Homo sapiens: one gene and its partners. The protein of the gene in region 5 purifies or fractionates together with the protein of the main gene of each other region. This does not show direct contact. Each region holds a gene or a part of one and is shown on either strand. Other genes may lie near its edges. The genes, in order: NUDT21, SPTLC2, ACSL3, DHRS7, ESYT1, EPHX1 and ATAD3A.

The links.
Region 1: the proteins of ESYT1 (region 5) and NUDT21 purify together in Homo sapiens (affinity purification with mass spectrometry, with the first as the bait; one study listed by BioGRID). This does not show direct contact.
Region 2: the proteins of ESYT1 (region 5) and SPTLC2 purify together in Homo sapiens (affinity purification with mass spectrometry, with the first as the bait; one study listed by BioGRID). This does not show direct contact.
Region 3: the proteins of ESYT1 (region 5) and ACSL3 purify together in Homo sapiens (affinity purification with mass spectrometry, with the first as the bait; one study listed by BioGRID). This does not show direct contact.
Region 4: the proteins of ESYT1 (region 5) and DHRS7 purify together in Homo sapiens (affinity purification with mass spectrometry, with the first as the bait; one large-scale study listed by BioGRID). This does not show direct contact.
Region 6: the proteins of ESYT1 (region 5) and EPHX1 purify together in Homo sapiens (affinity purification with mass spectrometry; one large-scale study listed by BioGRID and IntAct). This does not show direct contact.
Region 7: the proteins of ESYT1 (region 5) and ATAD3A purify together in Homo sapiens (affinity purification with mass spectrometry, with the first as the bait; one study listed by BioGRID). This does not show direct contact.

What each region holds. Positions count from the first base shown.
Region 1 is NC_000016.10:56,437,833-56,441,332, forward strand, and holds part of NUDT21 (cleavage and polyadenylation specificity factor subunit 5), read right to left. Parts: intron 1,915-3,500; coding exon 1,825-1,914; intron 1-1,824. UniProt on the Homo sapiens protein: Component of the cleavage factor Im (CFIm) complex that functions as an activator of the pre-mRNA 3'-end cleavage and polyadenylation processing required for the maturation of pre-mRNA into functional mRNAs.
Region 2 is NC_000014.9:77,610,138-77,613,637, forward strand, and holds part of SPTLC2 (serine palmitoyltransferase 2), read right to left. Parts: intron 1-3,500. UniProt on the Homo sapiens protein: Component of the serine palmitoyltransferase multisubunit enzyme (SPT) that catalyzes the initial and rate-limiting step in sphingolipid biosynthesis by condensing L-serine and activated acyl-CoA (most commonly palmitoyl-CoA) to form long-chain bases.
Region 3 is NC_000002.12:222,864,036-222,867,535, forward strand, and holds part of ACSL3 (fatty acid CoA ligase Acsl3), read left to right. Parts: intron 1-3,500. UniProt on the Homo sapiens protein: Acyl-CoA synthetases (ACSL) activates long-chain fatty acids for both synthesis of cellular lipids, and degradation via beta-oxidation.
Region 4 is NC_000014.9:60,143,619-60,146,008, reverse strand, and holds the end of DHRS7 (dehydrogenase/reductase SDR family member 7 isoform 1 precursor), read left to right. Parts: exon of another isoform or gene 1-995; coding exon 996-1,043; 3' UTR 1,044-1,890; downstream 1,891-2,390. UniProt on the Homo sapiens protein: NADPH-dependent oxidoreductase which catalyzes the reduction of a variety of compounds bearing carbonyl groups including steroids, retinoids and xenobiotics.
Region 5 is NC_000012.12:56,134,767-56,138,266, reverse strand, and holds part of ESYT1 (extended synaptotagmin-1), read right to left. Parts: intron 1,524-3,500; coding exon 1,374-1,523; intron 1,050-1,373; coding exon 894-1,049; intron 769-893; coding exon 592-768; intron 436-591; coding exon 353-435; intron 242-352; coding exon 193-241; intron 85-192; coding exon 1-84. UniProt on the Homo sapiens protein: Binds calcium (via the C2 domains) and translocates to sites of contact between the endoplasmic reticulum and the cell membrane in response to increased cytosolic calcium levels.
Region 6 is NC_000001.11:225,827,124-225,830,623, reverse strand, and holds part of EPHX1 (epoxide hydrolase 1), read right to left. Parts: intron 1,900-3,500; 5' UTR 1,895-1,899; coding exon 1,712-1,894; intron 1-1,711. UniProt on the Homo sapiens protein: Biotransformation enzyme that catalyzes the hydrolysis of arene and aliphatic epoxides to less reactive and more water soluble dihydrodiols by the trans addition of water.
Region 7 is NC_000001.11:1,518,662-1,522,161, reverse strand, and holds part of ATAD3A (ATPase family AAA domain-containing protein 3A), read right to left. Parts: intron 3,242-3,500; coding exon 3,172-3,241; intron 2,022-3,171; coding exon 1,856-2,021; intron 1,615-1,855; coding exon 1,545-1,614; intron 1-1,544. UniProt on the Homo sapiens protein: Essential for mitochondrial network organization, mitochondrial metabolism and cell growth at organism and cellular level. May play an important role in mitochondrial protein synthesis. May also participate in mitochondrial DNA replication.

The DNA of each region.
Region 1 (3,500 bases), on a different chromosome or scaffold from region 5:
GGATGCTAAGGAATTAAGTCATTCTTCTGAAAAATGTTAAGTAAAGGAATAGCAGCATATTTTTTTTTTCTACACAAACCACACACTTCAGTAATACATAAGTTTCTTTTTATATGAGGATCACAACCCTTATGAATTCATAGACCAGGAAATGATCATCAATGAGCTGCTAACATTACAACAAGAAACAACCAAATATTTTTAAATTCCTGATGGAAGTACACTATACCAATTGTGATAGACTGCCTTAAGATGACCCCCAATGATTCCTGTCTCCTGGTATTCACTGCTTTGTGTAGTCCCTCCTATAGCGTACCAGGGTTGGCTTGTGTGACCAATAGCACACAGCAGAAGTGATGGTATGCCACTGCCAAGATTAGGTTATCACAGACTGAGGCTTCCTACTTGGGCACTCCTCTAGCACTCTGTCTCTCACTATCTCTTGGATCACACAGCCTTGGGTAAGCCAGCTGCCTGAGAGTTGTCCTTTTAGAGATGTTCTCATGGCAAGGAACTGAGGGAGACCTTGAGACAACAGCCAGCAACACCTGAAGCAAAGCTTTAGTCTAACAGCCCAGATGAAACTAAGAAGTTTGCTAACACACACACGTGTAAGCTCGGGATCAGATACTTTAACCCCAGTTCCACCTTATGATGCAGTCCCAGCTGACAACTTGACTGTAACTTCATGACAGAGCCTAAGCCAGAACCACCCTAAGCAACTCCCAGAGGCCTAAAGGCTGCTAAATTTTGAGGTAATTTGTTATGCAGGTATAGATTATATACCGCCTATGACAAGCCTTGTTACCCCTCCCCAAATTAACTGAGCCTGAATACAATTTCTAGATCTAACTATCAATTTGCAAGACACACAGGGGAAACAGCTACATATTCAACAACAACAGGGGAATGCAATCGAAATGGAAACATTAGCCTGTTTTCATTAACAAATAAAACACAAGGAAAAAAAAAAGGTGCCAAGTGTGTAAAAGAGACTTTAGAGACTATCCTAATCCAAACAAATTATAAAAAGAAAATAGAAATAATCAGGATACGCGAACAGTGACTATATATTTGACAATAATATGGAATTGTTTATTTTTAGTATGATAATAACAGTACTATAGTTATCTTTTTAAAGAGATCCTTATTTTTATGATTCACACTGAAATATTTACAATTGAAATGAATAGCTAGGATACACTTCAAAATAATCCAAGATGAGGGTAGGAGAATGAAGCGGTGGAATGAGGGGTTGTGATGTGCTAACTGTTAAAGGCAGACGACGGGTAGCGCAATTCATTCACTTTTACCATTCTCTCTTCTTTTGTATTTGTTCTATTTATTTATTTATTTTTTGAGAAGGAGTCTCACTGTTGTCCAGGCTGGAGTGCAATGGCACAATCTCGGTTCACTGCAACTTCTGCCTCCCAGGTTCAAGCAATTCTCCTGCCTCAGCCTCCGGAGTAGCTGGGATTACAGGCTTGTACCATCAAACCCAGCTGATTTTTACATTTTTTAGTAGAGACGAGCTTTCACCATGTTGGCCAGGCTGGTCTCAAACTCCTGACCTCAACAGGTGATCCACCCGCCTCGGCCTCCTGAAGTGCTGGGATTACAGGCATGAGCCACCTCGCCCGGCCTTGTATTTGTTTTACATTTTCCTTTAAAATAAGAAGTGCTTGGCTTAATTTTGTAATTTAAATTAAGGAGGGAAGAAAAGAAAATTTCAAGTCAAATTCTACTTTAATCTTTTTTAAAGTGGCTAGAATTAAACGAGCTTTCTGCTTCCAAAATGCCCAGCAAATGTAACTGAACACTGACCTGAGGAGGTTCAAAATTTGGTCTCCACCAGTTACCAATGCAATCGTCAATGACCCAGTCTTGCAAAACTCCATCCTGACGACCCAGTATCTGTCAAAAAGAAATAAGCCAGTAAACAACTAAATATATGTACTCACAAATCCCCTTCTTCAGTGAACAGAAAATTCTTAGCAGTGCTCCTAATTGAAACATAGGGATAATATGCCTTCCATACAGATTTTCTATGATTTGTTAATATAGATGTCACTCTGCCCAAGACATACAATATTAGTTCAAAACTGGCAAGCTAGTATCAACATAAAAATTGTGTTCAAAATTCAGCTTTCATTTTTATTAATTTGTATAGCAGAACACTAAACTTATTTTAACCAAAGTCATACTCTACATATTTTAAGTGGCCAAAAATAGTTCTACAATGTTCATGGTGAGAAACTGCAGTTCTCTGTCCTGCTTCACCCATTCCCACTGGCTGTAACTTTCAACTCTTGGTTGTTTTTCCCCTCATGTTTTCTTCTATTTTTAAAAGCATTCTTCTTGGTCTTAAATAAACGGTTTATTTTAGGATAGTTTTAGATTTACAGAAAACTTGCAAAACTTGTTCAGAGACTTCTCATATACCCCACACAGTTTCCCCGACTGTTAACATCTCACACTAGTAAAGCACATTTGTCAAACTAATCAACCAATACCAAGACAAGATTATTAACTGAAGTCCATATATTATTCAGATATCCATAGTCTTTAACCTAATGTCCTTTTTCATTTTTCAGTCCCAGGATCCCATCTAAGATACCATATTACACTTAATCTTCATTTCTTCCGAGGTTCCTCTACATTGTGACAGCTTTTCATACCTTCCTTGTGTTTGATGATCTTGATAGCTTTGAGGAATACTGGTCAAGTATTTTGTAAAACATCCCTCAATTAAATTGAAGTTATGAGCTTTTGGGAAGAAAACTACAGAGGTAAAAGGGCCATTCTCATCACGTCATATCAAAGGTACATGCTATATCAATATGGCTTATCACTAATGGGCTGAGGTACTGTTTATCACGTTTCTTCAATGTAAAGTCATATTTTTCAAAAAAAAAATTTTTTTTTGAGACGGAGTTTTGCTCATTGCCCAGGCTGGAGTGCAATGGCGCAATATCGGCTCACTGCAACCTCCACCTCCCAGGTTCAAGTGATTCTCCTGTCTCAGCCTCCGGAGTAGGTGGGATTACAGGCACATGCTACCATGCCCAGCTAATTTTTTGTCTTTTTAGTAGAGATGGGGTTTCACCCTGTTGGTCAGGCTGGTCTCGAACTCCTGACCTCAGATGATCTGCCCACCTCACTCTCCCAAAGTGCTGGGCTTACAGGCATGAGCCACTGCACCGGGCCTCAAAACTACATTTTTTAAGAGATAGGGTCTTGCTCTGTCACTCAGGCTGGAGCACAGCGACGCAATCATGGCTCACTACAACTCCTGGCCTCAAGCAATCTTCCGGCCTCAGCCCCACAAAGCACTGGGATTACAGGTGTGAGCCACCATGCCCAGCCAAAATATTCTTTTATGACAGTTTCTTGATTTTCATTTTATTTTATTTTATTTTTTTGAGACAGAGTCTCGCTCTGTTGCCCAGGCTGGAGTGCAGTGCCGCAATCTTGGCTCACTGCAACCTCCACCACCCAGG
Region 2 (3,500 bases), on a different chromosome or scaffold from region 5:
GTTTTGTTTTGTTTTGTTTTGTTGAGACAGAGTCTCACTGTCGCCCAAGCTGAAGTGCAGTGGCACCATCTTGGCTCACTGCAACTTCCACCTCCTGGGTTCAAGCGATTCTACTACCTCAGACTCCCAGAGTAGCTGGGATTATAGGCACACACCACCACACCCGGCTAATTTTTACATTTTTAGTAGAGACGGGGTTTCACCATGTTGGCCAGGCTGGTCTCAAACTCCTGACCTCAAGTGATCCGCCCATCTCGGCTTCCCAAAGTGCTGGGATTACAGGCGTGAGCCACGGTACCTGGTCATATACCTTATTATTTTTTAATTAAATAGAGATGGGGTCTCGCCACGTTGCCCAGGCTGATCTTGAACTCCTGGGCTCAAGCAATCCTTACACCTTGGCTTCCCTTAGTGCTGGGATTACAGGTATGAGCCACTGTGCCCAGCCCTTAATACCTATTTTTTGGAGTAAGACTGGATCACACCCATAGTATCAGTACAACCGCATATTTCACTGTACTTAGAAATTATCACAAAATAGTCTGCTACAGTGGCTGTAATCCCAGCACTTTGGTAGGCTGAAGCAGGAGGATGCTTGTGGTCAGGAGTCTGAGACCAGCCTGGGTGGCTGGGTGCGGTGGCTCACACCTATAATCTCAGCACTTCAGGAGGCCAAGGCAGGAGGATCGATTGTACCCAACAGTTTGAGATCAGCCTGGGCAACATAGTGAGACTCTGTCTCCCTCTCTCTCTGTCTCCCTCTCTCTTTATATATATATATTTTTATTTATTTTTGTTTGTTTGTTTAAGTAAAAAAGAGACTAGCCTGGGGAACATAGTAAGACCCATCTCTACAAAAAAAAAAAAAAAAAAAGGCCAGGCATGGTGGCTCAAGCCTGTAATTCCAGCACTTTGGGAGACTGAGGCAGGCGGATTACAAGGTCAGGAGAGCGAGACCATCCTGGCTAACATGGGGAAACCCTGTCTCTACTAAAAATACAAAAAAAAAAAAAAAATTAGCCGGGTGTGTTGGTGAGCACCTGTAGTCCCAGCTACTCGGGAGGCTGAGGCAGGAGAATGGTGTGAACCTGGGAAGTAGAGCTTGCAGTGAGCCAAGATCGCGCCACTGCACTCCAGCCTGGGTGACAGAGCAAGACTCTGTCTCAAAAAAAAAAATTAGCCCACTGTAGTGGTGCACACCTGTGGACCCAGCTACTTGGGAGGCTGAGATGGGAGGATCGCTTGAGCCCGAGAAGTTGAGGCCGCAGTAAGCTATGACTGTGCTACTGCAGGCCAGGCTGGAGCGAGACCCTATCTCGCCAAAAAAAAAAAAAAAAAGAAAGAAAAGAAATTAACGGAAAGTAGCAGATGGATTTACAATAGACCACATTAAAAAACAAACCTCCGGCTAGGCGTGGTGGCTCACGCCTGTAATCCCAGCACTTTGGGAGGCGGAGGCAGGTGGATCACCTGAGGTCAGGAGTTCGAGACCAGCCTGGCCAACACTGTGAAACCTTGTCTCTACTACAAATGCAAAAATCAGCCAGGCGTGGTGGCGCATGCCTGTAATCCCAGCTACTCAGGAGGCTGAGGCTGGAGAATCGCTTGAACCCGGGAGGTGGAGGCTGCAGTGAACTGAGATGGCGCCACTGCACTCCAGCCTGGGCGACAGAGTGAGACTCCGTCTCAAAAAAAAAAAAACCTAACGCAGAGATTATCTCAATGTTTTATGATCCCACATTAAACATGTATTATTTCTATAATGAGAAGTAAAAATTATTTTTTTAAAAAAGGAAGAATAGCTGCCTCAAGCTTTGCAATAAAAAGTAGTCTTAAAGACAAACTTAAGATAAATTTTCTAACAGTAAATGGGTCAAGAGCAAAGGACTTACTTTTTTATCGGTCACAAATTGTGAATTATATTACAGAAGCTTCTCAGAAACTACCCAGAAGGGAACTGACTTTGAGTCCACAAACCATTTATTTAATCAAGTATGGCACACCCACTCAGAATGCAAACAGTGCCTCTACCCATCCCTCTGAATTGCCTATTCTACCAATAAACACTGCTTCTTTCTTCCAAAAACTGAATCTAATTAAATCAACCAATTAACTGTCTTGCTCAAAGCGGTGCAAATTTCTATGGCACATGGGCAAACCCTAAAAAGTGGGCAAGTCTGACTTTTCTGAACATCCTAGTTCTAAAATACTATCTTAAGAACATAGCTGCTTACACATTTCCCAAGAATTCCTGTTAAAGAAAATTCCTGAGTATCTCAAATAACTCTGGAATTCTTCAGATGCAGCTATGTAAGAATCAAGATATGCTTCCCCTTAGAGTGAAAACTGAAATGAAAATCTTGTCCTCCAAGTTGTAAATTACATTATTTCTGAAAAGCCTTCAGGTATCTGAGGTATCTTATCAGGATCTGCTAAATCTAAATAGATATATGACTATTCTAACTATTTCTACTGTTCTAGCCTCATAACTATCGTCTCCTTTTCCTTAACTATCACATATAAACCCCCAGTTACTGTTTCTCCCTCAGTGGAAACAAAAGCTAGTAGCTATTTAGTAAACCAGCTTTATTAGTTATTTATTTGCCTCCTCCTAAGAAGCAAGACTAACACTTTGTTCTTTCTACTTTGCTTATTATTTAACATAAGAACACAACTTTTGCCCCAATTCCTTGAGATAGAATTTTTTATTCTGTAAGCCAGAGAGCTCTCATCCTTCTAATATCTCATTAAAACTACACCCAAAGGGAAAAAAGTTAGGGTCAAAACTGTCTCAAAGGTAGATAACTTTTTTTCTTTCACACTTATTAACTAACTCAGGAAAGTAAAAGGAAAACCTAAATCTCAAAACTTCTATAAAGAAATGGAAGCTCTTTTAAAAAGAGCTGTTAACGTGAAGTTTTAAAAACAAACACACAAACAAACTACTATATTTCAGGTGCAACCAAAACATGGCATTTATTTCATCAAATGTTAAATCCACAGGAAGAAATTTGGTAATTAAGATCATGGAATAATAATCCAATTTGCTATAGAGAAAAACTTGCTGCAAATCCCCTGGAGATCTTTAAAAACAGTACAGAATTTTCTATCAAGACTGATTTTAATAAACTCCTACAAAGAGATAAAGGACTGAATTAAATAAACTCCCAAAGGTTCTTTCCAATGCTAATGTAAAAGTTTCCCTCGGGCAAATTGCCACACCTTACCTCAAATAAAGGTTTGTGCTCCTCCCACTCATCTGAATAGCAGAGAGGAAAAATTACTGCTCTATTGTTCAACTGTTACTATTGTGAAAACTGTGTGTCTACTGTCATCACTAAACAGCAATGTGTGATTGTTTCATAACTCCTTAACACAGCATCTAGCTCATCAAATTCTAAACCCAAATCCAAGAGTTGTTCTTTTACTATACACATTCATTCATCTCTTCAAGCACAGAAACATACTCTTGAGAGTGTAAAGTGATCCTAGACGTTTCT
Region 3 (3,500 bases), on a different chromosome or scaffold from region 5:
ACAGAAATACTGAGAAAATGGAGATAAAAAATTGTCAGGATATGGTGATAAATAGTAAATGGAGTGGGAGAAAGAGGTGCTAAGTGATTACTAGGTTTCAGACCTATGCAACTAAAGAGGTATGTGTGCTATTCACTGAGCTGGGGCTTAACTGGTAGAGAACTAGGTTCTGGATATGGGAAGGGCATGACTTTAGTTTTGGAAGTGTTCAGCTGGAGCTGCCTTTGAGGCCTTTATTGAGGTACTGGTTTTGTGCTGAGAATTGGGGTGGCCATTTACCGTTTTGAAGACCTCCATGTAGAGGCAAGAGCTCAAACCATGGGTATGGGTGAGATTGCCTGTGGGGAGGCTATAGAATAAGAAGAGAAGGAGGCCTGGGATGGAGCTGGGCAGAGGAGGTTGAGCTTGTCAAGGAGACAAGAGTGGCCAGGAAGGTCAGAGGACAGCCAGAAACAGATGTTCCTGCAAGGCGATGAGTCAGTACTGTGGAATGCTCCTATGAGAGAAGAATTGAGAACCATCATTGAATTTAGCAACATGGAGGTCACTGGTGACCTTTGAAAGAGATGCTGATCTGCAGGTAGGGGTGGGATGGGGAGCAGTGGGAGGTGAGGAAAACGGAGACAGAAACTGTTTCCAATAGGTTTGATTTCAGCATGTTTAAATGCTGATGGGAAGGCTCAGTGGAGAGGGAGTGGTTGAATATAGACTAGAAAAGGGTTTGTGCAGAGTTCCTAAAAGGATGGGGTTGGGATGGGACCCAAAGTACAACTGAGGCCTGTGTCTTTGCTGGGAGGAGGGGACACCTTCCACAGTAACAGAATACAGGCCTGTAACCTATGGAGTACTAAGCAAATGCCAAAAATTGTCAAGAACTGTTAAATTTCTAAAAATTAGCCCAATTTTAGTTGACTCATGACAGTCTTTTAGAAAACTTTGTTGCAAGAGCATTGTGTGATTGATTTAAAATGTGGCTCAGTCTTAATTTCATCCCTCAATAGAGTATATATTTTCATCTGACTTTTGATTGTAATTTATTTATTTTCTGAAAAAGGAGACATTGTAAATGTTAAATCCTGTGGTGCCTTCCTTACATGTTTATTTTTGGTTTCATTAGAAAAAAGCTTTCAGACGGTTTCTGTTTTCCTGACATCATAGGTGCCTTAATTCTTTTAATTTAAAGTTTAGCTTCTGTTATTATTGGAATATGTTTATTTACGTATTTTTGATGTTTCCCATTTTGAAGGGTAAAGAATTGGATGATTCAGTAGTTTCAACTGATCTGCTAATTTTTGTTTAGAATTGAAGATACTTAAATAACCAACCTTTTGGATAAGTGGCCTCCAAATACAGCTTTCTGCTTGTTTGTGAAGGTATTTGTTATTAAGGATTCATTCATTCATGTATTTACTTAGTGTCTGTTTTGCAAGGTACTCGGAATTTGGAAATGATTGGGCGAGTTCCTGCTCTTAAGGAGCTCACAGTTCACCACAGGAAAGAGGTGTATGAACAAATTACAGCATGGTGGAACAGAAGAAGGTATATGAGCAAATATATTACAGGATGGTATAATCAGTGCAGCAGTGGAATCTGCTAGGAAATAGAGAAAAAGTGCAGAGCAGGCACAGAGTAGGGAAGGAAAAGGGGAGACTTCTCAGTGGAGATGATAGCTGAACTAGGTTTTCCAAGATGAACTGGAGTTTTCCCAGGTCAACAGGGAGCCAGGAAATAGAATGTTTTACCTTGATTTTGGATCCTCTGTGTGTGTGTGTGTGTGTGTGTGTGTGTGTACACAGATGTGTACGCATTGGAGATGTTATAACGCTACCAAAGAATATTGTTAGAAAAATTAAAAATTGCTTATCTTACTATCCTCATGTTGATTGCTCTAGCTGTGAAAAGCTGCACATTTTCCCCTGTCCTGTCATGGTCAACTTTTCTGTCTCCTATTTGATGCAGAAAGTAACTGAACTTAATTATATTATTTGGATACAAAGCCTAGTTTTTGTTTTTCTAAATGAATGGTCTTTGGAATAAGGATAATAGCCAACACCTTTATAGTATACTGTGGCCAAATGCTGTTCTAATTTTTATCTCAGCCTTGCAAAATAGGTACTTTTTTTTTTTTGAGACGGAGTCTCGCTCTGTCCCCCTGGCTGGAGTGCAGTGGCATGATCTCGGCTCACTGTAAGCTCCGCTTCCCGGGTTCACGCCATTCTCCTGCCTCAGCCTCCTGAGTAGCTGGGACTACAGGTGCCCACCACCATGCCCGGCTAATTTTTTGTATTTTCGGTAGAGATGGGGTTTCACCATGTTAGTCAGGATGGTCTTGATCTTCTGACCTTGTGATCCGCCCGCCTCGCCCTCCCAAAGTACTGGGATTACAGGCTGGGAGCTACTGCGCTGACTGCAAAATAGGTTCTTTTATCATTCTAATTTTTACAGCTGAGGAAACTGAAGCACAGAGCAATTTAAGTGACTTGCACGATTGTGTGCTAAATGTGTGCTGGATTTCATCCCAGGCACTTTGGTTCCAGAGTCCCTGTTCTTAACCTGGGCGCTGCATCTCCTCTCTGGAGTGACAGTTTGAAGTTCATGTTAACCTTTGAAGGCATGATTGTGTAGGGAAAGGAGCTGTGATGACATTTAGGGGCAGTTTTATGTCTGTTTTAATTACACAAAGTTGCTGCCCCAAATAAAACTGCCCTGCCCCCCCCGCCCCCCCCCCCCCCCCCCCCCCCCGCCCCGGGGAAATCATAAGGAAATTGAGAGAATTTAACTAGAATTTTCTTTTTTTTCTTTTTCTTTTTTTTTTTTGAGACAGAGTCTTGCTCTGTCACCTATGCTGGAGTGCAGTGGTGTGATCTCTGCTCACTGCAACCTCCGCCTCCCGGGTTCAAGCAATTCTCCTGCCGCAGCCTCCCGAGGAGCTGGAATTACAAGTACCCACCACCACACTCGGCTAATTTTTGTATTTTTGGTAGAGATGGGGTTTCACCATGTTGGCCAGGCTGGTCTCTAACTCCTGACCTCGTGATCTGCCCATCTCAGCCTCCCAAAGTACTGGGATTGCAGATGTGAACCACCATGCCCGGCCTAGAATTTTCTTTTTGGACTTGAACATAATTCCTCAGGATGCTTTCCCCTTTAACCTTACTTCGCAGGAATTGTTATTGACTTTTTAGATTGGAATATAAAGGAATTTGGGATCCCATAGTCTGCTAATTCCATTTTCTTTTCCTGTCTTTTAACTAAAATATTGACGCACTTTCTGTATGTTTGAAAAATATTTCATAAAATTTAATCCACTTAAAGAAACCCACTCCTTTCCCCCAAATCTTACAGCTAACCACTGCTCTGAATTTGGTGTTTATTATTCCTATGTATTTCTGTACAGCTTTATTACACATGTGTGTTTCCTTAGACAGTGTATAGTATTGTTTTGTGTATTCTTAAACTTTATATAGATGGTACTGCATGTATTCTTGTTCAGCATACTG
Region 4 (2,390 bases), on a different chromosome or scaffold from region 5:
TTATTGATAAGCGTCTAAGTTAAGAAAATGCTAGCATAGCTTATTTCAAGCTAATAGTACTTGTTAACTAGAATTTGCTTCTTTAGTCTGTATGTCTGGAACTTTGTTTTTATGAATCTTTATTATTTTTAGGGATCAAGAACAGTGGCTACACTGAATTTTGTATTATCATTATTATTATTTTGTCTTTCTTAGTGCAAAGTTTTGAAAGTGGTAAATGCATATCTTCTGAAAAGAAACATCACATCTTGGGGATTATCAGGTTGCCTTGTTTTATTCCTTAAGCAATATACAAAAAGTTCACAAATAATTTTTTTTTCTTTTTATTTTTTTTGAGACAGAGTTTCCCTCTTGTTGGCCAGGCTGGAGTGCAATGGCGCAGTCTCAGCTCACTGCAACCTCCGCCTCCTGGATTCAAGCAATTCTCTTGCCTCAGCCTCCCGGGTAGCTGGGATTACAGGTGCACACCACCACACCCAGCTAATTTTTGTATTTTTAGTAGAGATGGGGTTTTGCCAGGCTGGTCTCTAACTCCTGACCTCAGGTGATCTGCCCACCTCGGCCTCCCAAAGTGCTGGGATTACAGGCATGAGCCACAGTGCCTGCCTGGCCACAAATAATTTTAAAGAGTTATCTTCCATATATCTCAATTCTACATAATCTGACTCATTGTTTTTATTTATTAGGGCAAGTCAGTGTAGGTATGATATGCTGATCCAGAAAAGTCATTATAGAGAATTTAGCATTGCAGTCCAATGCTATTTATACCTCCTCTAAACCAGAGATGATGCTAAACTCATTAGAAGTACTTTTGTGTACATCTAGAATTTTGGCTATGATTTTTAAATTCTAATTTAAGCAGTTTCTGAACTTTTGTAAAGATTCTTAATAGTGAATCATAATGATACAGCTCCTCAAAACAGAAGGACTTAAATGTTAAAAACTGGAGTAAATAGGAGTAGGTACTGATCCATGTTTCTGTCCCTCTTTTACAGGATGCAGACTCTTCTTATTTTAAAATCTTTAAGACAAAACATGACTGAAAAGAGCACCTGTACTTTTCAAGCCACTGGAGGGAGAAATGGAAAACATGAAAACAGCAATCTTCTTATGCTTCTGAATAATCAAAGACTAATTTGTGATTTTACTTTTTAATAGATATGACTTTGCTTCCAACATGGAATGAAATAAAAAATAAATAATAAAAGATTGCCATGAATCTTGCAAAAAAGGTATTAACTCATACTATATTCTTGGATAAAATAACCTTTTAAAATACTTTAGCACATATGCTTAAAATCTAAGTTAACAGATTTGTCTTAGTCCATTTGTGCTGCTATAACAAAATACCACAGATTTGGTAATTTATAAACAACAGAAATCTGTTTTTCCTGGCTCTTGAGGCTGGGAATTCCAAGACCAATGCACCAGCAGAATTAGTGTCTGGTGAAGGCTGATCTCTGCTTCCAAGATGGCACCTCATTGCTGCATCCTCCACAGTGGAGGAATGTATGTCCTCACATGGTGGAAGGGACAGAAGGGAAAGAGGAGCAAAATGCTTTCAAAAGAGCATTTAATCTCATTCATTACTCAGTCACCTCTTAAAGGCCACATCCTTTAATACTGTTGCTTTGGGGATTAAGTTTCGACATGAATTTTGGAGGGGACAAAAACATCCAAACCATAGCAACATAAATGTATAGAATATTTCACACAAAGCAGAGTGCTGGGTAATGACCAGATATAAAGAAGTATTTGAAATGACCTTACCTCCAAGATGCTTATACTCTTAGAAAAGTTGACAGGTACAGATGGCTGTAATTTGAAGCAGCAGGTAGGATTCATTGCACCTATTATTCATTAAACACCTGTTGTATGTCTTCTACTGTACTGGAGTGCTTAGTATTAGTTAATTAACTCATTCCTCATAACAGCCCACTAAGATAGATGGTATTACCTACCTTGATAGATGAAGAAAGACCAACAAGGTTTTACTTTTCCAAGGTCAAGGTCACAAAGCTAGTAAGGGGTAAAGCCATGATTAGATTCAGCTCAGGAAGATTCCACTGGCAACTCCTTACTTCTACTATTATTAATTTTACTTTAACATTTAACACCTTACAGCAGAAAACATGCACAGGCACTAATAGGAAATCAGCAGGAGTAACAGGTAAAGAAAAACATGGTCCTTATCTACAAGCAGTTCACAATTGAGCTGGAGCCAAAGTAACATACATAAAATAACTGTAGAATAGTTGTTGGGCAAGTTGGAAGCCACCCAAGTGGCTGTCCTTGGAAAAGGGGGAAGATGACATGTGGTAGAGGTACACGATGAGGTATAGCGGGTAGAAGCAATGGAATAAATGCATACATAACAACATGGATATGTA
Region 5 (3,500 bases):
TAACTCAGCAGCAGTGGGACGGGGGGTGAGACGCTCCAGGCGCAAGTGCAGGCGGCCAGATGGGACATCCTCCAGGGTCAGCCACTGTGGAAGTAGGCAGGGTGAAGACTTGGGGATATGCAGACAGGAGAACTTTGAGAATGAAGCTTGGGCAGGATCAGGAGGGGTTGTTGACTCTAATTCAATGCTCACCTCATCAAGGAAGCCACTGTTTAAGACTGTGGTGAGACGCACTTTACACCTGTTGAAGAGAAAGATTAAGACAAAAGCTAGATGGTGAGAACCAAGGAGGCCAGACTCCATGGCCTAAAGAGCCCCAGCCTGTTTTTCACGTAGACTCCTATGCTCTCACCTGCCCAGAAAATCATCCTTGTCCAAGTCCTTGTCAAAGACTTCAACCTCTAGCTCTTGGCCTGGAACTGATGTGACGATCACCTAGTGGGAGAAAATAGTGCAGATGAAAGATTCTCTCCTTTTCCTCTGCAAATGACTGGACCCCCCAGTCAACTGAACCTCAGAGGTTTCTGGACCACTTTTGGGATTGGGGGAAAAATGGGGCAGAACCAGGAGTCACAGCCACTCAATTCTGACCTCAAAAACCTCATTCCAGCGGGGATTGAGATCTTCCCGAACAACATGGCTCCGGAAGCTTCGTCCTGCCAACTTTAGTTTGACATAGGGGTCTGACTTGCCCTTCACCAGTCCCCCCAAGAAACGGTCTTTGGCAATCAGGTCCTGGGCCTCTAATACATGGATCCGAAGCACATGCTGCAAAAGGGACGGGGGGGTGCCAGATGGCAAAGGGAGAGAGACCTGTCAGAATCTGCCCTGAAACAGGCTTTGCATACTTAGCGGGGCAAACAGACCCTAGTCCTTTCCAGATATAGACTCACCTCAGTCCCAAACTGGCTATCAGGAGTCGTGTGACAGGGTCGAGGTGGGGCATCCACACTGCTGCCTCTCTGGGGATTCTCACTGTCCACGTCCCAAGCACCAGGACAACCAGGCACCGTGGGGAAGCATATTTCTGATGAATCCAAGTACAGGATCTAGGAAGGGTAGTATGATGCTGAATCAAAGAAGTGCAGCTCGTCACCAGCAGGCAAAGCATGTGGGGTGGGGTAGAGGAGGGGCTGTGACAGGGGAACTAGGTGCTGCCCTGGCTGGGCTCATCTCTACAGGGTTCCCTCCACACCCCCTCAACTCATAAGCCATTCCTTCCACCAGTCAGATCAATATATGTTTTTGTGCCTGCTTGGCACTTCTACATGTATTAGCTCTTTTAATCTTAGGGGGGTCCCTTTCCTTACTCTTAATACCAAAGAATCAACAGGCCTTTCCCCCACACCTCAGTACCTCCTCTATTTCCATACCCTCATGACTAGTTTCATATAGAGTCTGGAGTTTGGACCAGAGCTGCTGAGCTGGAACCACTGGTCCAGGATGAGTTCTGGGGCAGTCAGCAGGCGGGCCAGAGGCAGCGTCAGTGCTCCTAAAGTCAGGGCCCTGGAATCATCCTTCACCTACAGGCACAGGAGGAAGGACTGTAGTGAAGGGATTAGGGGAAAGGGAGGCATACTGTGAAAATGATAACATGGCTCCAACTTCATTCCTCTCTGTACCAATCACAAACCTCCTGCTCCACTCAGGGCCATCTTTTTTTTTTTTTTTTTTTTGAGACAGAGTCTCACTCTGTCGCCCATGCTGGAGTGCAATGGCGCCATCTTGGCTCACTGCAACTTCGACCTCCTGGGTTCAACCCATTCTCCTACCTCAGCCTCCCAAATAGCTGGGACTACAGGCGCATGCCGTCACGCCCAGCTAAATTTTTGTATTTTTTAGTAGAGACAGGGTTTCATGGTGTTCCCCAGGCTGGTCTCAAACTCCTGAGCTCAGGCAATCCGCCCACCTCGGCCAGAGCCATCTTTTATAGTCCTCTGCCCAATCCATGGCCCCTTCCACCTTTGTTCATTCTGCTCCCACTATTTGGAAAGTCCTCATTCTCTTCCCTCGGCCTATTTAAATCCTACTCATCCTTCAAGACTCAATTAAAATCCAATTTTTTGCTTCACAAAATCTCCCTAGTTACTCCAGCCTATCCCTTTCTCTGACCCTCCTTAGTCCTATACTATGGATATTTTACTCCCACAAATTCATATGTAATTGTTGCTATTCTTCTGTTCCTTTTTTTTTTTTTTTTTTTTTTGGAGACAGAGTCTTGCTCTGTCACCCAGGCTAGAGTGCAGTGCTTGAAATCAGCTCACTACAACTTCTACCTCCCGGGTTCAAATGATTCTTCTGCCTCAGCCTCCCAAGTAGCTGGGATTACTGACACATGCCACCACACCTGGCAAATTTTTGATTTTTTTTTTTTTTTTGAGACGGAGTCTCACTCTGTCACCCAGGCTGGAGTGCAGTGACGCTATCTTGGCTCACTGCAACCTCCGCCTCCCGGACTCAAGCAATTCTACCTCAGCCTCCCAAGTAGCTGGGATTACAGGCACGCACCACCATGCCTGGCTAATTTTTGTATTTTTAGTAGAGATAGGGTTTCACCATGCTGACCAGGCTATTCTCAAACTCCTGACCTCAGGTGATCCACCTGCCTTGGCCTCCCAAAGTGCTAGGATTACAGGTGTGAGCCACCATGCCTGGCCTTAGTTCATATGTACTTGTTCTTGAATGATTTTATATGTGTATGTCTTGTCTATGAAACTGAAACTGGCCAGTGAGTATTGTGAAGGCAGATACTATGTTTTGTGCTTTTTCTATGACCTTTAAAATGCTGAATGTTGGGCCGGGCACGGTGGCTCACGCCTGTAATCCAAGCACTTTGGGAGGCTGAGACGGGCGGATCACCTGAGGTTGGGAGTTCGAGACCAGCCTGACCAACATGGAGAAACCCCGTCTCTACTAAAAATACAAAAAAAATTAGCCAGGCATGGTGGCACATCCCTGTAATCCCAGCTACTCAGGAGGCTGAGGCAGGAGAATCACTTGAACCCAGGAGGTGGAGGTTGCGGTGAGCCGAGACCACGCCATTGCACTCCAGCCTGGGCAACAAAAGCGAAACTGTCTCAAAAAAAAAAAATGCTGAATGTTAGCAATTTTATTGAGGCATAATTTACATACCATAAAATCACTCATTTTAGGTACCGTGCCCAGCCTCAGAATAATTTTTGTATACCTAAAATGAGTGATTCTATGGTATGTAAATTATGCCTCAATAAAATTGTTAACATTCAGCATTTTAAAGGTCATGGAGAAAGCACGAAACATAGCATCTGCTTTCACAATGCTTACTGGCCAGTTTCATAGACAAGACACACATATATAAAATCATTCAAGAACAAGTACCTATGAACTAAGGCCAGGTGCAGTGGCTCATGCCTATAATCCCAGCACTTTGGGAGGCTGAGGCAGGCGGATCATCTGAGGTCAGGAGTTCGAGACCAGCCTGGCCAGCATGGTGAAACCCTGTCTCTACTAAAAATACAAAA
Region 6 (3,500 bases), on a different chromosome or scaffold from region 5:
GCATGGTGACAGGTGCCTGTAATGCCAGCTACTTGGGAGGCTGAGGCAGGAGAATCGCTTGAACCCAGGAGGCGGAGGTTGCAGTGAGCCAAGATCGCACCACTGCACCCCAGCCTGGTGACAGAGCAAGACCCTGTCTCCAAAAACTAAAAAATTTACAGACCAGGAGAGAGGGTGCAAGTCTCATTGGCATGTATTAGGCTAAAAGGCCAGCCCCAGAGGGAGGAAGTTCATGTCAGCTTAGAGAGCCTCTCAAGCATCACCATTCCCAGGCTTCTTCCCAAGTGTTTCAGTTACCCCCAAACAGATTTTGGAAATCTCAGACTCCCTTAGGAGTCTAATTCCCTAAAGGAGCTTTCCTTAGGGCTCAGCCTTGGCCCTAAATAGCAAGGCTGCAGCAAGCAAGTCCTACCCAGGGAGCCTCAGCCTGGTTGCTCTTGGGTTTAGCCCAGCTTCTGCTTTTAAATCTCTTCCTCCTTGGAACTCTCATGACTTTTATCCATGCTTTTTGTGACATTTATCCTTATGCATCTGTTTCTTTTTTTGAGATGGCATTTCACTCTTGTTGCCCAGGCTAGAGTGCAGTGGTGTGATCTTGGCTCACTGCAGCCTCTGCCTCCTGGGTTCAAGGGATTCTCCTGCCTCAGCCTCCCGAGTAGCTGGGATTATTATAGGTGCCCGCCACTATGCCCGGCTAATTTTTTGTATTTTTAGTAGAGACGGGGTTTCACGATGTTGGCCAGGCTGGTCTTGAACTCCTGACCTCAGGTGATCCACCGCCTCAGCCTCCTAAAGTGCTGGGATTAAAAGCGTGAGCCACCGCACCTAGCCTATCTTTATTTATCTTTTAGTCTACTTTTCTTTGTGCACATTCCTTTTCTCATTCACTGGACTGTATGCTGTTGGACGGAAGGGGCTGTCTCTTCTCCCAAGCACTCACTGGGCCTGCACACAGTAGGTGCTCAAAACCCACGGAATGAAAGAAAGGATTGGCAGGGCCATGCCAGGCCTGCCTACCGTCCTGTCCCCCACTCAAGCCTTGCTCCTCCCCGAGAATGCATTCTCAGTTCACCCCACCTGCCCAGTCACCTCCTTCCTGACTCTATCCCTGTGCAGAGGAGGGGCAGCAGCTTCAGGATTAGATTGGACTTCAAATCCTTCCGCATGTTAGCTAGGCCGCCTTGAACGAGTTGCTTTATGCCCCTGAGCTTCAGCTTCTGCATCTGCAGTTTGGGAACAACAATCCTCACCCCGCGGGATCACCGTAGGGATTGAATGTGACCAGGAATGGCTGACACACAGCCGGTGCCTAACCAGTAGCATCCCTGCCTTCTCAGTGCTTCCTGGGTCTCTGACGGGAACCTGCTCACTTTCTCCCACAACCTCACTCCCAAGGCTTCAGGCAGGGCATAGAGGAGGTGATGACAGCTGCTTTCTGTGACCTTTGATACAGGTTACCCCATCTCCTGCCTGAGCACTGCTGGGCCTTGGGTAGGGAAAGGAGAAGAGAGAAAGTGGGAGGGCTGGGCATCCCTCTCCAAAGCAACCTGCACCTGCCCAGCAGAGGAAAAGCAGACTGAAACACACTCCCAAGTAGGATGGACCATTCCCAAGCCCCCGTCCCCTCCCGCATCTGGCCTAAGACCCAACCCCTGTCTTCGACACACCACCCTCTCCACTGCCCAGCCCGGCCCGGCCCAAGGTGCCTTACGTGGATCTCCTCATCTGACGTTTCCACCTTGAAAGGGCGGATGCTGTCGTCCTCCCTGGCTGCGGACCTCGTGCCTGGCCCCCACCACCCATCTTCAAGTGGCAAAGTTTCCTCTTTGTCCCGGGAGATGAACCAGTAGATGGCAAAGCCCAGCACTGAAGTGAGGAGGATTTCTAGCCACATGGCTCCTGCAAGATGAGGGGAAGCCATTAACAACGGAGCCCGCCCAGCCCGGCCCTGACAGCCCAGAGACTCTGATCCCCAGCAGGCTCTTTCCTGCTGCGCTCCAACCCTGTCCCTGATTTTATTTACACTTGACCTAATATATACATATTATATATATATATACACACACTATATACATATTATATATAGTATAAATATTATATATATATGATCTAGAAAAATGGAAAAACAACAGACAATGAGACAAAATCACCCACAATCCTACTAAGCTTTGAAAACTGTTCATCATCCTGGGAAAATAGGAACCTGGTTTGGCTTCTGCACAGCCCTGGGTAGGGGGTTTTGGGAGCTACATTTCTGAGGCCTCATGTTGTTTTTTTTTTTGAGATGGAGTTTCACTGTGTCACCAGGCTGGAGTGCAGTGGCACAATCTCAGCTCATTGCAACCTTTGCCTCCCAGGTTCCCACCATTCTCCTGCCTCAGCCTCCCGAGTAGCTGGGACTACAGGCACGTGCCACCACACCCAGCTAATTTTTGTATTTTTAGTAGAGATGGGGTTTCACCATGTTAGCCAGGATGGTCTCAATCTCTTGACCTCGTGATCCGCCCGCCTCGGCCTCCCAAAGTGCTGGGATTACAGGTGTGAGCCACGGCGCCCGACAGCCTCATGTTTTTTGCATGTCTGAGAAGGCTTCTGTCCATGACCTCTGGGTTCCCTCCCCCAGGGGAGAGGAGCACCTTTCCTGAATGGTGGCCCACAGCCCCTGCTCTGTCCTTCTTGGAGAGAGGCTTATCCTCAGGGCAGACGGGGTAATGGGGAGGCCCAAGTGCTGGGAGAGTAAGTTCAATTTGGGGTTGGGGGACACTGCTAGGAAGCCCAGCCATGGCCACACAGCTTAGCTGTGTAAGAGCTTTATTGAAACATAATTCATATACCATACAATTCGCCCATTTAAAGTGAACCCTCCAGTGGTTTCTAGGATATTCACAGACATGTGCAGCCATAGCCACAGTCAACTGTAGAACATTTTCATCGGCACGGAGAAACTCCATACCCTTCAGCTGTCGCTCCCCTACTGCCCTCCACGTTAGGTCCTAAGCAGCCTCTAATCTACTTTCTGTGTCCATAGTGTTGCCTGTTACATTTCACATCAACTCAGTTGTCTTTTAATCCCCATTTGTCTGACTCCTGTGTCTTTTTTGATCAGAAGAGGAAGAAACCATAGTCTTGGCAAAGCACTATCAGGCAGATACCAGCCCAGCATTGTTATCTAGCTCTTCATCTTCCTCATTCCTAGGGAAGTAACCCATAGACTGTTCTTGTTCAGAGTAACCTGCATGAATATGCGGGCCGTCCTTATGCCTGAGTCAGAGGAGGGTCTCTAGATGCACTGCAGTTAGGACCCAGACGGAGGAGAAAGCATCGAGTTCTGACAAGGCCCCTGCAAACCACGCCCCAGCAGCGCCCCTCGCTCTGTCTTGGAAACCCAAGGCAGGAGGTGGTCCCTGCTGGGAACCCCACCACTTGCATGTCCTCCATTGGCTACATGTCAGATGTTTGGGACTCTGCTGGGGGGTTGCAGAGGCCCTGGAGTTTGCTCC
Region 7 (3,500 bases), on a different chromosome or scaffold from region 5:
AGGCTGAGGCAGGAGAATCTCTTGAACCCGGAAGGCAAAGGTTGCAATGAGCTGGACCCGCGCCACTACACTCCAGCCTATGCAACAAGAGCAAAACTCTGTCTCAAAAAACAAACAAACAAAAAATGAATTAGGCCAGGCCCGGTGGCTCACCCGTGTAATCCCAGCACTTTGGGAGGCCAAGACGGCTGGATCACTTAAGGTCAGAAGTTCGTGACCAGCCTGGCCAACATGGTGAAAACCCATCTCTACTAAAAATACAAAAATTGGCCGGGCCTGGTGGCACAGGCCTATATTAGCTGAGTGTGGTGACGTGAGCCTGTAATCCCAGTCACTTGGGAGGCTGAGGCAGGAGAACTGCTTGAACTGGGGAGGTGGAGGTTGCAGTGAGCCGAGATGGCACCATTGCACTCCAGTCTGACCACAGAGCAAGACCCTGTCTCTAAAAACAAACAAACAAAAGTCATCGGCGCATTAAGCAGCTCCGTCATGTCCTCACGTGACACGGTCTCACCAACATGGTGGCAACACCACCTGCAACATTCACCGTCACACTGACCAGGCCACCGGCAGGCGCTGCAGTCACAGCTCTGGGCGCCGGCACCACGGCAGAGCAAGTGCCCACTCAGTGCCGGGCACCTACCGTGTGCTGGGCGGGGTGGGGACGGAGGACACAGCCATGTGGGACGTGGGGCGCCACCACAGCAGGCCGGAGGCTGGGCACAAAAGAGTGAGGCTTTAAACGAGAGAAGAATCTGTGAACTTCAAACTCTCAGGGTTTTATAAGGAATAAAGAAGGTTTTTGCAAAATGGAGTCAGGGTTGCCTTCTGGTTTTTTTTTTTTTTTTTTTTTTTTTTTTTTTGAGAAGAAGCCTCACTATGTGGCCCAGGCTGGAGTGCAGTAGCGTGATCTCGACTCACTGCAAGCTCCGCCTCCCGGGTTCAGGTGATTCTCCTGCCTCAGCCTCTTGAGTAGCTGGGACTATAGGCGCCCGCCACTGCGCCCGGCTAATTTTTTGTATTTTTTTAGTAGAGACGGGGTTTCACCGTGTTAGCCAGGATGGTCTCGATCCCGATATCGTGATCCGCCCGCCTCTGCCTCTGCCTCCCAAAGTGCTGGGATTACAGGTGTGAGCCACGACTATCGACAATTTTTTTCTTGAGACAAGGACTTTGTCGCCCAGGATGGAGTGCAGTGCTGCGATCTCAGCTCAGTGCAGCTGCAACCTCCCTGGGCTTAAGTGATCCTCCTACCTCAGCCTCTTGAGTAGTGGGACCACAGGGGCTGCCACCACACCCAGCTAATATTTGATTTTTTGTAGAGATGGGGTCTCACTGTGTGGCCCAGGCTGGCAACTGCGTTTTCTTCTCCCAGCTTGAGAAGGGAGGAGAAGCCGAGGCCAGCAGGTACAACGTGGGCTTCCTCCCTGCTGGGAGAGCTACAGGGCTGTGCAGAGCCGGCAGGGACAGGACCTGGGGCTCCAGGAGGCCCCCACATGCTGCCCCTCAGCCACCTGCCAGCCCTGTTTTATGAGTATGTTTACCGTGGCTGTCACTTTGTCCCAGTCTGTCACAAAGGCACGGAATCCTTCCCCAAACAAGGTGCCAGCCGTCCTGCGGGGAAAGCAGTGGTGTGACCAGGAAGGACACGAAGATCCGTGCCACGCAGCGAGAGCAGGTTGAGGGTGAGGCCCTGACATGGCGGCACGGCCTTGCCAGGACAGAGGGGCAGTGCCCCCACCAAGGAGTCAGCCTACGGCGGCAAGGCCTGGAAGAGCTGGAGAGCGCCCTGGGACCAGCGACTCACACCTGCGGGGCTCCATCTGTGGCCGGCCCGGGCCTCGGCAGTGCTCACCTGATGGACTCCAAGACGGTCTGACGGTGCTCGGCCGCCTTCAGGCGGATCTGCTCGCGGATGATGTCTGCATTCTCCCGCTCGGCCTTGGCGCGCGCCCGGGCCTCGGCCTCCACTCGCAGCATCTCATTCTTGTGCCGCAGCTCCATCTCCCGCTCCACGGTGGCTGCCCCAGAGAGGCAGGGCAGCTCAGCACCATGCAGTGCAGCGCGTCCACCTCCACCCACACTGTGGACCGGCCCACGCCACGGACCGGCCCACGCCACGGACAGACCAACGCCACAGACAGGCCCATGCCACGGACCGGCCCACGCCATGGACAGGCCCACACTGCTGACAGGCTAAGGCCACGGACAGGCCCACGCCACAGACAGGCCCACGCCGCCAATAGGCTAAGGCCACGGACAGGTCCATGCCACAGACACACACAGACCTTGGTAGGGACAGCGCCACAGGCCGGCCCTGCCCATGGATTAGGGCAGAAATCCGACCCAGAGGCCTAGGCAACTTCTCAGGACGAGCTCTTTGAAGCAAAAAACCAGAACGCGGAGTTCTGAAGGAAGCCCCCCTCACACAGAAACACAGCTGTCAGAACTCAGACACGCGTGACGTGCCACGTGCCTGGCTACTGAACATTAAACGCACACACCTCGCCACAAGCCCACCCACGGTGAAGAGTGGTGACAGACGTTTGCCTGGAGCACTCGCCAACAAATGCCACATGGCACCAAATACCTGTGATCCCCACTGAAACCAGGACAGTAAAGACCCATGTTCTAGGCAGAACGCAGAGGCTCACGCCTGTAATCCCAGCACTGTGGAAGGCCAAGGCAGGCGGATAATGAGATCAAGAAGTTCAAGACCAGCCTGGCCAACACAGTGAAACCCTTTCTCTACTGAAGATACAAAAAAATTAGCTGGGCGTGGTGGCGGGAGCCTATAATCCCAGCTACTCGGGAGGCTGAGGCAGGAGAATTGCTTAAACCTGGGAGGCAGAGGTTGCAGTGAGCTGAGATCGTGCTATTGCACTCCTGCCTGGGTGACAGAGCGAGACTCCGTCTCAAAAAAAAAAAAAAGGCCCCTGTACTTCCCATGAAGTGAAGCAGCTCCTGCCCTCCCTGAACAGATCCTGGCGTCCACTCGCAGACAGAGGTGTCTTCCGAGAGGCAGCCCCACCCCGCGGAGCCCCAGCAGGCCTCGCCCACTGCACTGGTAGCTATGAGGGGCCGGGCGGCAGAACTCAGGCTCAGAGTGCACGCCGGGTCCACAAGCAGCCCCCGCCACCTCCGCCCCAGCCAGGAGAGCAGACAGCCTACCTCGCCGCATGGCTTCCTGCTTCTGCACGGACTCCTCCTGCTTCCGTAAATTCTCCTCATTGAGAAGTTGCTGAGAAGAAGCCGCAGAAAAAGAGAAAAGCCTTTAAAACCTGTGACTGTGCCCATGTGTGCGGGGGATGACTGTGCCCGAGTGTGCAGGGGGGTGAGTGTGCCCGTTTGCGGGGTGTGACGGTGCCCGTTTGCGGGGGGTGACGGTGCCCGAATGTGCAGGCGGGTGACTGTGCCCATGTGTGTGGGGGTGATTGTGCCCATGTGTGGGTGGGTTGTGCACCCGTTTGGGTGTGTGTGTGTGTGTGTGTGTGTACCCG